Linked DNA regions of Homo sapiens. The protein of the gene in region 1 interacts with the protein of each later gene in a pairwise test. Each region holds a gene or a part of one and is shown in the gene's direction. Other genes may lie near its edges.

Region 1 (7,039 bases):
GTAGTAATAGTACACATTGTGTGTGAATATGGTAAAAATCACTAAGTAATACTCAGACTGAAATTTGGGAAGTGCTGCTTGTAGGCCATAAGAAACCATTAACATGTTTTAGAAGAGCACCACGATCAGATTTTTACTGTAAGGAAAATGACAGTGGGAAGGATACAGTGGAGGTGGATATGATGAGGCTGCTACTCTGTTCCACAGAGAGACAATAAAGACCCAAGAGTAGTGACGTGAGCGGAGCGAAGAGATTTGAGAAACATTTAGGAGGTAAAATTATTAGGACTTGGTGGATGTTAATATTATTTTGTCAGTGTTACCAGAATTGTTTTAAAAGTCTGCATGCCCCCCTTGCCTCTTGTCCTTTATATTGTATGGTGAGCAATAATATTGCCAAAACATGCTATGTTTCTATGTTCATTAAGATTACAATGGAAGCTATAGTTACCACTCGAGTGGATTTGGATTACACACAAACATCCTTCCCACCTTACTCAGTGTCCTTGAGAGCAGTAGCACAAATATTCAAGGCACTGATTAGGAATATGACCATGATCTGTGACCCTTAGGCATGCAAGAAATTCCTCAGCCTTTAAGACTCAGCTCATATGTCAACACCTCTGTGAAGCCTTCCCGACAGCCCTTGCCCAACATACATGAATGCACGCACAAGGCAATGTTAGGCCTCGGGCTTCCACAGGACCCTGCACTTAGTTACCTCCGTCCTAGCCTGTACCACACTGTAGGGTGTCGGTCTGTGGATGTCTCTGTGTTCCCCACTAGACTGTGAACTCCTTGAGGGCAGGGACCAGGTTTCATTCATCTCCATACCCATAGCATCCAGAAGAGCACTTGACACATGGTAGTCACCTAATAAATGGTTATTGGGTGAAAAGAATTGATAAACAGATTTGCATGAATATAACTGGGGACCTTGGTAGCACAGAGTGCCAAATGCTATGAAAAGACTAGCTGTTTGCTACATTTGCTACTTTTGCTGAAGAAAGGAGTAAATTAAAGTGCCCATAATTTCATGAAAGACCTACTTTTTCCCTCTTTTCTTCACTCTCCCCTGGTTATCTTACCTTTTTCTTTCCTATCATTTACCTATCCAGGCACCTATTCCTTAGCCCTGCCCATTACTTTGCTGCTCTTGACAGAGTTCATCTTCCTCCTGCCCTGATACTTTGCCAGGAAACATCCTTCCTTCTACCCACCCAAGTCCAGTACACTCCGTCCTTGACATCACTCTCAAGTTCATCTCCTACTCATAGACTCTGCTGCTGGGACTATAATTTGATACAGCTCTTCTGGAGAGCAATTCGTCAATATGTATCAGAAACCTTAATAGAATACAGCTTTTAACCTACCACTTCAACTTCTAGAGCTCTATGCTGAGGAAACAATCATGATGTTTCCAAAAATTTAATACTCAGGACATCTATCCCAGAGTTGTTTATACTAATAGCAAAAACAACAAAAAAAAAAAAAAGAAAAAAAAGAACATCTTAAATGTACAATACTAGGGATTTGAATGAAATCAATTGTGGTACATTTATAGAATGGATTACTAAGTAGCCTTGTAAGTTGATTTTACCAAACAATATTTAATGATGTGGAAAATTGTTTTTGATATATTAAGAGAAAATTCACATCATAGAACTCTCAGTACAGAGTGACAGATCCCAGTTTAAAAACATATACATAATACACACACACACACGCACACACACACGCACACGCACACACACATCTGTGTAGGCATACATAGGAAAAATCCTGTAATGGTAAACACACAAAAAAATATTAATAGGGGTTTGCTGCAAGTAGTAAGATTGCATATGACTTCTACTTTTAACCTTTTGCGTATTTTTATTTTCTAATCTACAGTATATTTGTTAATTTTTAAAAAGTTATTTTGACCAGGCACAGTGGCTTAACACCTGTAATCCCAGCACTTTGGGAGGCCAAGGCAGGCGGATCACCTGAGGTCAGGAGTTTGAGACCAGGCTGGCCACCATGGGGAAACCCCGTCTCTACTAAAAATACAAAAATTAGCCGGGCGTGATGGCATGCGCCTGTAATCCCAGCTACTCGGGAGGCTGAGGCAGGAGAATTGCTTCAACCCAGGAGGCGGAGGTTGCAGTGAGCCAAGATTGCACCACTACACTCCAGCCTGGGAGACAGAGTGAGACTCTGTCTCAAAAAAAAAAAAAGTTATTTTAAAATGTTTTCCCGGTGTCCACCATTGTCTTACTTTGGGGCATACCTTCCACCCCCCAACACACATGCATCACTTCTAGCCTGGATTACTGCTGCTTCCAGCCTGCTTCCCTTCTAGTCTACTCTTTACCAATGCTGACAGAATGATTTTTGTAAATCACAAATCTAAAACCATCTGGTCTCTATATAAAATAGTTCAAAGGCTGTCCATTGTCTTCAGAGTAATATCCAGACTTCTTAGACTGCCTGATAAAAGCTTTGAAAATCAGCTCCCTGCTTGCTCCTCTAGTATTAGGTTTTCCTTCTGTGATTTACTTTTTTGGGGGGTCTTTGGCCAGTGGCAGGCACATAATAGGTATTTAATTAATGTTAGCCAATGTTGATGTGGACTGTATGGATTAGCTATTTTATGCCAGGCAATCTACTGGTATTTAATTCTCAGAGCAAAAATATTAAACACATAAAATAGTTATTCCTATTTTACAGATGAGGAAAACTAAATACATCAAAGCGAGAAGAAAAGTTATCATAATAAAGGGCATTTTTTAAAGAGAAAATTTAAAACCTCCTGCCATAACTCTGTTTTCTTTATTTTCCAGCAATCCCTGCTGGTCCTTGTCAGGAAGAAAACAGGCTTTGTACACTCCCTTGGGCAAGTTATATGTGACCACAGCATAACAAGAACAGCCAACTGACATGATCTCACCCTGTCGTGGTTCACATTGTGCTCATGTACGGAAATCTTTCCTTTGTGTACATAACACTTCACACAGGAGAGATGGAATAGCTCCAGTTGCTCTGTTTTTCTTTATTTTTTGAAATTCTGTGTCATTTGGGATGGGTATGTCAACAGAGAGCTACAGAAAACCGTGATAGAATTGAATGTACAAGAAACAATGTGTCTCATGGGAGCCGATGTCATTGGTTAATTTATTTTTTTAAATGTCATGTAGATGTATTTTCCAGCAATCTGTCCCCAGGGAAGACCTTGGTTGAATTCAATAGTTAATCCTACTTACAGAACGCAGCCCATGTGTGCACTATATTCTTGCATTGTTAAGTGATTTTAGACATATGTAGTGGATTACCATACGACATACAGTCGAGTGTATATAGGATATCTGATTTTCTCTACAATAACGTATCAGTGGTCATTCAGGATCCTGAAGTGTAGTCTTCCCTTCATTTTCCTTACAGATAATACCCATTGTGCAAAAATGGATGATTTCTAAGGGATGGAAGTCCTAAGCATGAGTCATCTGAGTAAAATATTTCTTTATAAGGAATTGTTACTTTTAAATACTCCAGGAAAAAAAATCTATAGTTTTCCTGCTACATGATCAAATAATTTGAATGTAGAAATTACAGATAGGGTTTCACTTCATTCGATGAATTATTGTAGGCTTACTATGTGAAAGCACTCCGTTAGGCACTGCACTAGATACTCATAAATACCCCTTTTAATGCCTTCTGTATAAAAAGAGAAAGAACAAGGGAGAGAGAGAGCAAGCAAGCACACAAGAGTAAGAGAATTCAAGAGCAAATAAAAGAGAAAATTTTAACAAGCGGGCCCATCTTATAAATGAAAATTCACCCAGCTGAAAACTGGGATATGTACCCGTGGGGATGTGTGTTTTTTTGTTTTTTTTTTCTCAGTGGGATAGCTAGGCAAAAATGAGCTACCAGATAGCTGATAAGCAAATGATCTGCTTCTCTGTTTACAAACAGTATGAGAGAAGGAACAGTGACTTTCTGTGCTTCCCAGCCCTGCACAAGCCTGCTGGTGATGTGAGAGTTATGATTGTGTCAGCTTTTCCAGGGTTTCTGTCTCTGCTGTAGAGATTTGGCAGACACCTCAGACAAATTTTATGTCTCTTAAATCTTCCTCAAGCTAGGCTTGGCTCTTAGATTTATATGTGCAAAAAAGTAAAGTGTTTACCAGTCTGACATTTTTGAAGATCAAAACAGACTTAGTTTAAAAAAAGAAATCAGCATACACCTCAGTTTAGTCAGAAAGACCTAATTGCTTTTTGCTATTTGTTTAAAACAGCCCAAATGTGTACTTTTCAGAAATGGCTACTGATCATATGTCTAAAGATTTATGTTCTATCCCTCAGTGTTGCTTCCTTTTTTTCTTGCCTACAAAGTGTAAAGTTTTGCTGAAGTCTTAATTTTCCTTTTTTTGCCTTTACTGATACATAGTATAAAACACTGTAGGATGGAAACATGGTGAAATACATTGGCAATCTAGGAGGAGAAAAAAGATAATTTTTATTAGCTCTGCTTCCCTCCCCTTTCTGGTGCTCTGTTTTTCAGTGGTCTCTTACTCACAAAATGTTGTTCTTTAGCATAATAACGATAGGTGAGTAGAAGAATCAAAGAGCTTTCAGTGACCACACTTTAACAAAGCTGGTCCAAATGCCTCGGTAGGCAGAGCACAAATGAATATGGCAATCATTCAGGAGAATTGAGACACTATGGAAAATGTTACTTCAGAGAACAACATTGCTTTAGTGGTGAACTATGAAAGATAAGGATGGAGAAATCCCCAGTAAGGGCCCTTGTCATCTGCTCCAGCTGCTCTTCATTTTTAGCCAGCAACAACTGCTAATAAGAGTTTCCTGGGATAGAAACTGCCCCACAATAAGCCCCCATAAGGTGTCCTCCTATCAGCTTTTCTTCAGTCAGGTCCTCAAACATACTTCACTAGGATTACTCTGGTCACATACCATTCTAATTTTCACCTTTCAAGAGATGCTGAGTTTGACTTCAAGGAGTACTTGATGTTCAAACTCATTCATTCAATAGACATTTGAGCATATATACAGGACCAGACCCTATGCTAAACACCAGGACTATAATAATGAATTTGATGTGATGTAATCCCTGCCCTTAAGGAGCTCACAGTCTAATAGGGGAGATAGACACTCAAACCAGTGATCGTATTTTGATGTGAAAAGCACCCAAAAGAGAGAGAAGGTGTTCTGGGAATATGGAGGAGGGAATTACAGCTGGGGGTGGACAACTTAGAGATCAGAGTCTAACTGTGCTGAATCATAAAGGATGAGGGGCATTGCCTAGTCTCTATGTGGACAAAGAGGTGATGGGCAAGGATTCCAGGCAGAGGGACCATCAACACATGCAAGGCAGTCAAATGTGTAAAACTGCATAGTTCAGAAAAAGGTAAGATATTGTGTGTGAACCACTGAAAGCATGGGAAAGGGGGACAGGATAAGAGTCTGGAAAGGTATCCTGTGGCTGGTTGGGTGAAGTAAGTCAGCTTGCTAAGAAGTATGGCCATTGTCCTATATGTAGGGATGAGTGAACACAGGGTTTTAAATGGGAGGAGTAACATGATTGCACTGGAGGTTGGACTTCATGGGGGGAAAAGCTGAAGACAGATGAAGTCCACTTTCTTTTTTTTTATTATTTTTATTTTGAAATACTTTCAATTTAGAAAAAAGTTGAAAGAATGGTATAAAGAATATTAAAATAACCATTTGAGAATAAAATTTTAATATGATGCTTCATCATTTCTGAATATTTTATTTGAATCTTCTACCAAAAAAAAAAAAAAGGATATTCCATATATAGCTACAATACCATCATAGACATCAGGAAATTTTCTTTTTTTTTTTTCTTTTTTTTTTAAATTTTACTTTAAGTTCTAGGATACTGTGCAGAACGTGCAGGTTTGTTACATAGGTATACATGTGCCATGGTCAAGGATCTAGAACCAGAAATACCATTTGACCCAAGCAATCCCATTACTGGGTGTATATCCAAAGGATTATAAAGTCCACTTTCTAATTTGGCAGTCTTTGAGAGGTTTTACCCTAATCACTTGCTACTATTCAGCAATGCCATCTCTGCTAGGGTTTCTTTCCATATACAGAGATCACTTTGAACAATTGTTTCCTTCTGCACACAGGACATAACTTCCTGCACTCCTTCACATGTTACTCAGATGAATATTCATTCTTTCCAACTCAAATCAGTGATTCCAGCAGTAATTGAGGTTTGATTATCATGAAGGAAAGAAATCAGTTTTGAAGCACAGCAGCTTCATTTCAAAAGCATTCTATGAGGCGTATTTATTGCTTGCTGAGTCAGCAGGGCTGAGGCACGTGCTGGTCAGCTGCCCTTGGGATTTGGGGGAGGAAAAAGGAAAGGCTGAAGAGATGTCAGGAAGTGGCTATTTGAAAAATAAGCAGCAACCAGCATGTTGGAAATCCTTAAACGTCACATCCAGATATGGGAAGTGGATAGACGTACCAGATGTACATGAATATAAAACAAATGCATGTTGAAGGTACCTGTGCCCAAACAAATTGTACCATCTAGCCAGTCAGTTTTAGATCATGTTCTTTCCCTGACTCAGATACTGTAAATGGCTTCCCATTATCCATAGGATGAAGTCCAAACTCTTCAGCCTGACCTTTAGTACTGTCTGCAATCTGGCTCCAACCTACCTTTCTAATCTTTGTACTTCTGTCTTACAGAACTCTGCTCCAGCCAGTTACCCTTTCAGACACTGCTTTGGCATTCCATTACTTACAGTGGGAGCCCTCTCAGGGGCTGTATTTTTTACTTCTTTGAATTCCCCAAAGTGCCTAGCACAGTGTCTTGCATATAGTAGGCCCCCAATATATATCTGTGACTGTTATTTTTCCCCACCCTTCCACCATTGTTTCCAATATCTCTACTATTAACCCAATGCCCTCACTACTGAAAATGGCAACTGAGACACTAGGTAAAAGAGGTTGGTGCTCAACAAATTATCTTTTAACTTTCTAGTTTGAAGTACTTTTAA
Region 2 (7,419 bases), on another chromosome or scaffold:
CAAGAAATAAATAAATAAATAAATAAATAAATTAATTAATTAATTAATTAAAATATAAAAGTAAATAAAAAACTGAAAATAGTAACTGCTGGAGAAGATGTGAAATAACTAGAACCTACAAACACTGATGGTGAGAAAGCAAACTAGTGCAGCCTCTTTAGGAAGAAGTTTGGCAAGTTTCTTATATACTGAATATGAGCCATTAATCCTACCCCTCGATATTTACCCAAGTGGAATAAAAAAAAAATACAAAAAATTAGCGAGTGCGGTGGCACCTGCCTGTGGTCCCAGCTACTTAGGAGGGTGAGGTGGGAGGATCAGTTGAGCTCAGAAGGTAGAGACGAGTCTGAACGACATGGTGAGATCCCATCTCTACAAAAATTTAAAAAATTAGCCAGGTGTGGTGGTGTGCACATTTCATGTAAATAGAATCACACTATATGGGACTGTTCATCTCTAGCTTCTTTCACTCAACATAATGTTTTTGTTTTCTTCTTTTCTCTTTTTTGCAAAAGTTACCTTGATCAGCATAATGTTTTTATTTGGGTTGTCTTTCTAGTTTTGAGATGTAAGAGTTCTTAGTTTTTATCGTGGGTTTTGTTTTTTGGTTTTTTTCGAGATAGAGTCTCGCTCTTGTTGCCCAGGCTGGAGTGCAGTGGCACGATCTCAGCTCACTGCAACCTCCCCCTCCCAGGTTCAAGCGATTTTCCTGTCTCAGCCTCCCGAGTAGCTGGGATTACAGGCGCCCACCACCACACCTGGCTAATTTTTTGTATTTTTAGTAGAGACAGGGTTTCACTATGTTGGCCAGGCTGGTCTCTAACTCCTGACCTCAGGTGATCCACCCACCTCATTCTCCCAAAGTGCTGGGATTACAGGCGTGCGCCCGGCCCTGAGAGTTCTTTATATATTCTGAATAGTAGTTCCTTATGAGATATATGATTCACAAATACAGTTAGCCCTTCATATCCAGTTTCCTTATCCATGGATTCAATAAACCACGGAGTGAAAATACCTGGAACCAATAAAATAAAAATAATACAACAATAAAAAGAATACAAATAAAAATGTGTAACAATTATTTATGTAGCATTTATATTTCATTAGATATTATACATAATTTAGAGATAATTTAAAGTCTATGGAGGGCCGGGCATGGTGGCCCATGTAATCCCAGCATTTTGAGAGGCCAAGGTGGGCCGGATCACTTGAGGTCAGGAGTTTGTGACCAGCCTGGCCAACATGGCAAAACCCCGTCTCTACTAAAAATATAAAAATTAGCTGGACACAGTGGTGTGCACCTGTAATCCCAGCTACTAGGGAGGCTGAGGCAGGAGAATTGCTTGAACCTAGGAGGCAGAGGTTGCAGTGGGCTGAGATTACGCCACTGCACTCCAGCCTGGGTGACAGAGCCAGACTCCAACTCGAAAAAGTAAAATAAAAATAAATAAATAAATAAATAAAGTGTATGGAAGATGTGCACAGGCTATATGCAAATATTATGCCATTTTATATAAATGACTTGAGCACTGAGCATTTGTCCCATTCTGTGGGCATGACAGGTTTTTGTGTGAACCTAGTTTAAATTTTTTTTTTACACTATACTTTATTTTTTTAGAGCAGTCTTAGTTTCACAGCAAAATTGATCAGAAGGTACAGAGATTTCCCGTACACCTGCTGCTTTCATACTTGTATAGCTTCCCCTACAATCAACATCCTCCACATGCAAGTGCATGACAGTAGCTAGTCTGTTACAATTGATGAACTGACACTGATACATCATTATCACCCACAGTGGTTAGTGGATAGTTTACATTAGGGGTCACTCTCAGTTGAACATAGGTTTTTATTTCCCTTGGGTAAACACCCAGGAGTCTTTTTTTTTTTTTTTTTTTGAGACAGGATCTCACTCTGTCTCCCAGGCTGGAGTGCAGTACAGTGGAGTGATCATAGCTCACTTCATCCTCGACCTCCCTACCTCAAGCAAACCTCCCAAGTAGCTGGATACCACCAAACCTGGCTAATTTTTGTATTTTTGTAGAGATGGGGCTTCACCATGTTGCCTAGGCTGGTCTCCAACTCCTGGGCTAAAGTGGTCCTCTTGCCTTGGCCTCCCAAAGTGCTGGGATTACAGGCATGAGCCACCATACCAGGCCCTGAATCTTGTGGTAAGGTTAAGTTTAATTCTATTTAAAAAAAACCCAGCCAACCTATTTTCCAGAGTGTCTATACCATTTTGCATCAACACCAGCAATGTATGAGCATTCCAGTTGCTCCATACCCTCACCAACACTTGATATTGTTTATTTTTTGAAAGTTATTCTTGGATGGCTGGGCATGGTGGTTCATGCCTGTAATCCCAGCACTTTGGGAGGCTAAGGTGGGTAGATCACTTGAGGCCAGGTGTTCAAGACCAGCCTGGGCAACATAGACAGACCCTGTCTCCACAAAAAATACAAAAAAAAAAAAATTAGCCGGATGTGGCAGCATGTGCCTCTAGTGCCAGCTACCTGGGAGGCTGAGGAAGGAGGGTCGCTGCAGTGAGCCATGATTGTATCACTGCTCTCCAGCCTGGGTGACAGAGTGAGACCCTGTCTCAAAAAAAAAAAAAAGTCATCCTTGAGGCATCTTTCAAGCCTGATCAGGGTCACATTTTACAAGATGACTGCACAGATTTGGCAGAGGATGCTTGATGAGGCCGAGGCAGGAAAGCCTGCTGGGAAACATTGCAATAGTCCAGGCCAGGTAGAGAAAACACAGGTGAGACCCAAAGTGAGAAGGGCATGGAGGGCCAGGCTAAGAAATTTAGACTCTCAGATTCTCCACCCAAGAGGATTCTGGGCCTTAATAAAGTTGGTAGCTGCTACATTAGATCTGCCCTTTGGGCCGGGCGAGGTGGCTCACACATGTAATTCCAGCACTTTGGGAGGCCGAGGCGGGTGGATCACCTGAGGTCAGGAGTTCGAGACCAGCCTGGCCAACATAGTGAAACTCTGTCTCTACTAAAAATACAAAACTTAGCCAGGCGTGGTGGTGGGCGCCTGTAATAATCCCAGCTACTCGGGAGGCTGAGGCAGGAGAATGGCCTGAACTCGGGAGGTGGAGCTTGCAGTGAGCCGAGATCACGCCACTGCACCCTAGACTGGGTGACAGAGCGAGACTCCGTCTCAAAAAAAAAAAATACAAAAAAAATTAGCTTGGCATGGTGGACACCTGTGGTCCCAGCTACCTGGGATGCTGAGGCAGGAGAATCACTTGAACCTGGGAGGCAGAGATTGCAGTGAACCGAGATCACACCACTGCACTCCAGCCTGGGCAACAGAGTGAGACTGTCTCAAAAAAATAAAATGTAATAAAATAATAATGTCAATGCACACCCCAGAACTTCATCTAGCTTGTTCACCATTATGTTCCCAATGCAGTGATGCAATCATGGCTCACTGCAGCCTCAAACTCCTGGGCTCAAGCAATCCTCCCACCTCAGCCTCCTGAGTAGCTGGGACCACAGGCATGCACCACCACATCCAGCTAATTTTTGTATTTTTAGTAGAGATAGGGCCTTGCCATGCTGCCCAAGCTGATCTTGAACTCCTGGCCTCAAGTGAATCTCATGCTTTGTCCTCCTAAAGTGCTGGGATTACAGGTATGAGCCACCTCGCCCAGCCAAAACCTTTTTTTTTTTTTTGGAGATGGAGTCTTACTCTGTCACCCAGTCTGGAGTGCAATGGCGGGATCTCGGCTCACTGCAACCTCCACCTCCTGGGTTCAAGCAATTCTCCTGCCTCAGTCTCTGGAGTAGCTGGGATTACAGGCATGTGTCACAATGCCAAGCTAATTTTTGTATTTTTAGTAGAGATGGGGTTTTGCCGTGTTGGCCAGGCTGGTCTTGAACTCCTGACCTCAGGTGATCCGCCTGCCTGGCCCTCCCAAAGTGCTGGGATTACAGGTGTGAGCCACCTTGCCCAGTCAAAACCTTTTTTTTTTTTTTTTAAATCTCAGATCCTGAGAATGACCCTATGAGGTAGGTATAATGTAATTTTCATCTCATGAATGAGGTTCAGAGAAGTCAGGTGACTTGCCCAGGGCCACACAGCTAGTGGGCAGAGAGCTGGGATTTGAGCTGCAGTGTGCCCATAGCCCTTCTGTATACCCTGCCTGTCTCTTGAGTGTGCCCCATAACCCCAGCCTCACCTTGTGGTGGCAGATGTGGCCTCCCCACTGAGGTCTTCTCTGTGACATCCCACAGCCCTTATCCTTACCCATGGACACATTCAGGCTGTTGTCCAGAGAGCCTGGCTGTAATTTGAGTCTCATCAAGCAGGGGGTGATGGCGTAGGTGGGTGGGTGACAGCCAGGGCAGGGAGATTTGCCCAGACACTGGTACACAACAGCCTGGCAACCCGTGTGGCCCCGAGGAAGCTGGGAGCCTTTGGGGTGCATCCCCAAGTCTGGGCTGTGGTTCACACCATGGGCAACAAGCAGACAGTCTTCACACACGAGCAGCTGGAAGCGTATCAGGTAGAGGGGGGCAGGATGGGTCCTCAGTGGGTTTGACAACTTTGGTTCCGTGGTCTGGGAAATGGGAACAGAATGCCTTCATCTGGGTGTACCGTCCGCCTGGGTTCCTGGTTCTGCTCTGTGTGTGGCAGCATCAGGCCATCTGTGTGAGTGTGGGGTGGAGGGAGGAGGCCGTGGGAGGAGGCCCCAGAGGCAGGGTTCGGGTTAAGACAACACCTCTCTCCACAGGACTGCACATTTTTCACAAGGAAGGAGATCATGAGGTCAGTCCAGGGAGGAAGGGAGAGAAGATCTGGAAAAACAACTTTCTATTCATTGCTGGAGGATATTTGCAATTTGGTGTGTGTGTGTGTGTGTGTGTGTGTGTGTGTGTGTGTGTGTGTAAGTAGTCTTTCTTTCTTTCTTTCTCTTTTCTCTCTCTCTCTCCCTCCCTCCCTCCCTTCCTTCCTTCCTTCCTTCTTTTCTTTTTTTTTGAGACAGGGTCTGTCTCTATTGCCTGGGCTGGAGTGCAGTGGTGCAATCATGGCTCATTGCAGGCTCGATCTCCCAAGGTCAGGTGATCCTCCCACCTCAGCCTCTCGAGTAGCTAGGACCACTGGTGCGAGCCACCACATGTACCTCATTTTTGTATTTTTTTATAGAGATGGGGCTCTCACTATGTTGCCCAGGCTGGTCTTAAACCCTTGGGCTCAAGCGATCCCCCTGCCTCAGCCTCCCAAAGTGCTGGGATTACAGGTGTGAGCCACCATGCCCAACTGGTATTTCCAATTTGTTGGGACTCAAATGGGGAAGGGGGGCAGGTGTGGTCAGTGGACAGAGGCAGAGATGGAGAAGCTGACAAGTCACATCTTGTCATACTGTCCCAGTCTCTAGGCTGATGAGCTTGGGCTTTCTCCCAAGGGTGGCAGGGAGCTATGGAGCATGCATGAGCAGGGGAGAGACCATCAGCACGTTAGAAAGATTCTCCTGAGGCTGGGCGCGGTGGCTCATGCCTGTAATCCCAGCACTTTGGGAGGACAAGGTGGGTGGATCACCTGAGGTCAGGAGTTTAAGATCAGCCTGGCCAACATGGTGAAACCCCATCTCTGCTAATAATACAAAAATCAGCTGGGCGAGGTGGTGGGTGCCTGTAATCCCAGCTACTCAAGAGGCTGAGGCAGGAGAATTGCTTGAACCTGGGAGGTGGAGGTTGCAGTGAGCCGAGATCACGCCACTGTGCTCCAGCCTGGGTGACAGAGCTAGACTCTGCCTCAGAAAAACAAAATGAAAGATAAAGATTCTCCTGAGACTGGGACTTGAGGCTGGGAGCCCAGGTGCAAAGTCCAGAGCCCAGTCTGGGTTGTGGGCTTGGCATTAAGATGAGGGTGTGAGGAGGTGGCCCAAGGCTGCTGCAGGTCCCTGGCGTGACCCAGCACGATGGGCACAGATGAGTATCCCACATCATCACTCGGCCTGTGGGGCCATTGCCCAGGGGCCCCGACCCATGAACTTGGAGCTATGAAACCCAAGCTGGCCAGGGTTCAGCTGCAGTGTGATCGGGGCCAAGGCCCCAGTTGTGTAGTAACAGGACATCCATTATTGATGGCCACACCTTTTACTAGTGAGCCCCATTGTTTGGGTGAGGACAGCTTGCAGGGTCACCTCGGCCATCACGATCAAATTACTGATGGGGAAACTGAGGCTCAGACAGGGCGGGGCTGATCCCAGGCTGAAGGGTAAATGCACAGAGCCCCAAGGCCCCAAGGACAGACATTTTGTCTGTCCCAAGCTTCTTGCTTATCAGATAGAATAACCAAGGCACAGAGAGGGAGAGGAGAGGAACATGCTCAGAGCCACACAGAAACCTAAACCCAGGGTATTCCCTGATGGGACCCCGACAGGGAACTGAGTGGTCAGGATGAAAGTTCTAGGTCTCCCCACCCCACCTTCATTGAGTTCCTAGTCATCATATGACCTAGGGACTCATGTCTCTCTCAGAGACAGTCCCTAGCAGCTTGGGGACCTCAGACCCACCAAGGATGGTCTCTGCAAGGCTGCTGCTCAGCATGCCCTAATGAAGGTATGGTGTCACAGGTGAGGGCTTCTGAGTGGAGAACTGGCCTTATAATCTGGATAGTGTGTGTGGTATTCAGTTATTTGCAAAATATCTTTTGTCTGCCCTTTAGAAAAAATGTGACTATTAGCTGTTTGTCTCTGCTCTGCCCCATTGAGGAATCCCTCCTTTTTTTTCTTTCTTTCTTCTTTTCTTTCTTTCTTTTTTATTTTTTATTTATTTATTTTTTTTATTGAGACCGAGTCTCATTCTGTTGCCCAGGCTGGAGTGCACTGGCTTGATCTCGGTTCACTGCATGCTGCGCCTCCCGGGTTCACACCATTGTCCTGCCTCAGCCTCCGGAGTAGCTGGGACTACAGGCGCCCACCACCACGCCTGGCTAAATTTTTATATTTTTAGTGGAGACGGGGTTTCACCATGTTAGCCAGGATGGTCTTGATCTCCTGTCCTCGTGATCCACCTGCCTCGGCCTCTCAAAGTGCTGGAATTACAGGCGTGAGCCACCGCGCCCGGCCTCTTTCTTTCTTTTTTCTTTTCTTTTTTTTTTTTGAGACAGAGTCTCGTTCTTGTTGCCCAGGCTGGAGTGCAGTGACACGATCTCAGCTCACTGCAACCTCCAGCTCCCAGGTTCAAGTGATTCTCCTGCCTCGGCCTCCCGAGTAGTTGGGATTACAGGTGCCCGTCACCACGCCCAGCTAATTTTTTGTATTTTCAGTAGAGATGGGGTTTCACCATGTTGGCCAGGCTAGTCTCGAACTCCTGACCTCTGGTGATCCACCCGCCTCGGCCTCCCAAAGTACTGGGATTACAGGCATGAGCCGCTGCATCCGGCCTCTTCCTCCCATTAT
Region 3 (2,748 bases), about 19 Mb from region 1:
AGGCTCCTTACCCGAGGACACATGGACCCTGCTGACTGTCACCATCTCTTGCTGTCCTTCCTGGGTAGCCCTGTGTACATGTGGCCAGATGTGTATCCCCACATGTCCTCTTTCATATCAGGAAAGAGCTATTGATCTGAGAGTTTCTCAGGTCAGGAGAGCTGTGTCTTCCAGGCCCTGGCAGGAGAAAGGTGAGGGCCCTGAGCACAGAGGGGACCATCCACTCCAAAAAAGTGAGAAACTCACAGAGTTTGGCCCACCTTTCTGACAGTGCTGGGGTGCCAGGATGGGTGCTTGCAGTCTGCAGCCTGATGGCCCCATGATTCCTCTTCTAGAAGCTCCAAAAACTGAGCAGTGAGGCCTTGGTCTCAAGCAATGTCTTCAGATCTCAGAACACAGGAAGCCTAGGCAGTGCCAGTAGTCAAGATGAGATGTTCACCCTTAATCTACAAATGGCCCCACCTGCCCCAGTACAGAAAGGGACCCCCAGCTTGCAACCTCACCTGCCCTACCTCAGTCCTGGAGCCTCCTGCTCTGATGTCCAGCTGCATCTTGAGCAGCCTTCTCACTTCCTTTTTCAGGTTTTTAGAGAACAGGCCAACCTGGAGGACAGGAGTCCCAGGAGAACCCAGAGGATCACTGGAGGAGAACAAGTGTAAGTAGGCCTTTGTTAGATTCTCCATGGTTCATATCTCATCTGAGTCTGTTCTCACGCTCCCTCTCTCCCCAGGCTGTGGGGCCCCATCACCCAGATATTTCCCACAGTTCGGCCTGCTGACCTAACCAGAGTCATCATGCCTCTTGAGCAAAGAAGTCAGCACTGCAAGCCTGAGGAAGGCCTTCAGGCCCAAGAAGAAGACCTGGGCCTGGTGGGTGCACAGGCTCTCCAAGCTGAGGAGCAGGAGGCTGCCTTCTTCTCCTCTACTCTGAATGTGGGCACTCTAGAGGAGTTGCCTGCTGCTGAGTCACCAAGTCCTCCCCAGAGTCCTCAGGAAGAGTCCTTCTCTCCCACTGCCATGGATGCCATCTTTGGGAGCCTATCTGATGAGGGCTCTGGCAGCCAAGAAAAGGAGGGGCCAAGTACCTCGCCTGACCTGATAGACCCTGAGTCCTTTTCCCAAGATATACTACATGACAAGATAATTGATTTGGTTCATTTATTGCTCCGCAAGTATCGAGTCAAGGGGCTGATCACAAAGGCAGAAATGCTGGGGAGTGTCATCAAAAATTATGAGGACTACTTTCCTGAGATATTTAGGGAAGCCTCTGTATGCATGCAACTGCTCTTTGGCATTGATGTGAAGGAAGTGGACCCCACTAGCCACTCCTATGTCCTTGTCACCTCCCTCAACCTCTCTTATGATGGCATACAGTGTAATGAGCAGAGCATGCCCAAGTCTGGCCTCCTGATAATAGTCCTGGGTGTAATCTTCATGGAGGGGAACTGCATCCCTGAAGAGGTTATGTGGGAAGTCCTGAGCATTATGGGGGTGTATGCTGGAAGGGAGCACTTCCTCTTTGGGGAGCCCAAGAGGCTCCTTACCCAAAATTGGGTGCAGGAAAAGTACCTGGTGTACCGGCAGGTGCCCGGCACTGATCCTGCATGCTATGAGTTCCTGTGGGGTCCAAGGGCCCACGCTGAGACCAGCAAGATGAAAGTTCTTGAGTACATAGCCAATGCCAATGGGAGGGATCCCACTTCTTACCCATCCCTGTATGAAGATGCTTTGAGAGAGGAGGGAGAGGGAGTCTGAGCATGAGATGCAACCAGGGCCAGCGGGCAGGGAAATGGGCCAATGCATGCTTCAGGGCCACACCCAGCAGTTTCCCTGTCCTGTGTGAAATCAGGCCCATTCTTCCCTCTGTGTTTGATGAGAGAAGTCAGTGTTCTCAGTAGTAGAAGGCACAGTGAATGGAAGGGAACACATTGTATACTGCCTTTAGGTTTCTCTTCCATCGGGTGACTTGGAGATTTCTTTTTGTTTCCCTTTGGTAATTTTCAAATATTGTTCCTGTAATAAAAGTTTTAGTTAGCTTCAACATCTAAGTGTATGGATGATACTGACCACACATGTTGTTTTGCTTATCCATTTCAAGTGCAAGTGTTTGCCATTTTGTAAAACATTTTGGGAAATCTTCCATCTTGCTGTGATTTGCAATAGGTATTTTCTTGGAGAATGTAAGAACTTAACAATAAAGCTGAACTGGTGTTGTGAAACAGAGAAATAAAAGGAGAAGGTCATTAATTCTTGTCTTCTTATCCATATTAATCTGTTGTTCTATGAAAGTACACACCCATACACACATGTACACCCCCCTCCCCCCACATACATATTCACCAAGGAAATGCAGTTTCCTACTGAGTTGCAGATTCTCTGAGATGTCCTGGACAATAAAAAATATTCCAAAGTAGAGAGTGGTAGCACCTGGGGTCACAGTAATACTAGAAATAGCTGTCAATCATTAAATATCCAGTACATGCCAGGCATCATCCCAGGTGTTTTAATACATTTTATACATTACAACAGTCCTAAAAAAATGGTCTATCAAACCCATTTTCTGGATGAACCTGAGTCTCATGGTGCTTGGTAACTTTCCCAAGATCATATCACTGGTAAACCACAAGGTTGGCCTGAATTCATCTAGAGCCCATTCTATTCTCACTCTTTGCAGCCTGAAGTACACCTCTGTCCCTTAATTCATTTGTTTTCTCAGTACTGCATAATGTCTCTCAAGTGGCCAAAAGAA

Evidence for each region. Proteins that work in one complex are often made in the same cells at the same time.
Region 2: the proteins of ENOX2 (region 1) and CIB3 interact in binary tests that used the Homo sapiens proteins (3 or more experiments, as listed by UniProt).
Region 3: the proteins of ENOX2 (region 1) and MAGEA11 interact in binary tests that used the Homo sapiens proteins (3 or more experiments, as listed by UniProt).

Annotation. Positions count from the first base shown.
Region 1 is NC_000023.11:130,893,193-130,900,231, reverse strand, and holds part of ENOX2 (ecto-NOX disulfide-thiol exchanger 2), read left to right. Parts: intron 1-7,039. UniProt on the Homo sapiens protein: May be involved in cell growth. Probably acts as a terminal oxidase of plasma electron transport from cytosolic NAD(P)H via hydroquinones to acceptors at the cell surface.
Region 2 is NC_000019.10:16,170,524-16,177,942, reverse strand, and holds the start of CIB3 (calcium and integrin-binding family member 3), read left to right. Parts: upstream 1-4,417; 5' UTR 4,418-4,467; coding exon 4,468-4,518; intron 4,519-4,746; coding exon 4,747-4,781; intron 4,782-7,419. UniProt on the Homo sapiens protein: Acts a an auxiliary subunit of the sensory mechanoelectrical transduction (MET) channel in hair cells. Plays a role in regulating hair cell MET channel localization and function.
Region 3 is NC_000023.11:149,715,023-149,717,770, forward strand, and holds the end of MAGEA11 (melanoma-associated antigen 11), read left to right. Parts: intron 1-581; coding exon 582-655; intron 656-730; coding exon 731-1,754; 3' UTR 1,755-2,246; downstream 2,247-2,748. UniProt on the Homo sapiens protein: Acts as androgen receptor coregulator that increases androgen receptor activity by modulating the receptors interdomain interaction. May play a role in embryonal development and tumor transformation or aspects of tumor progression.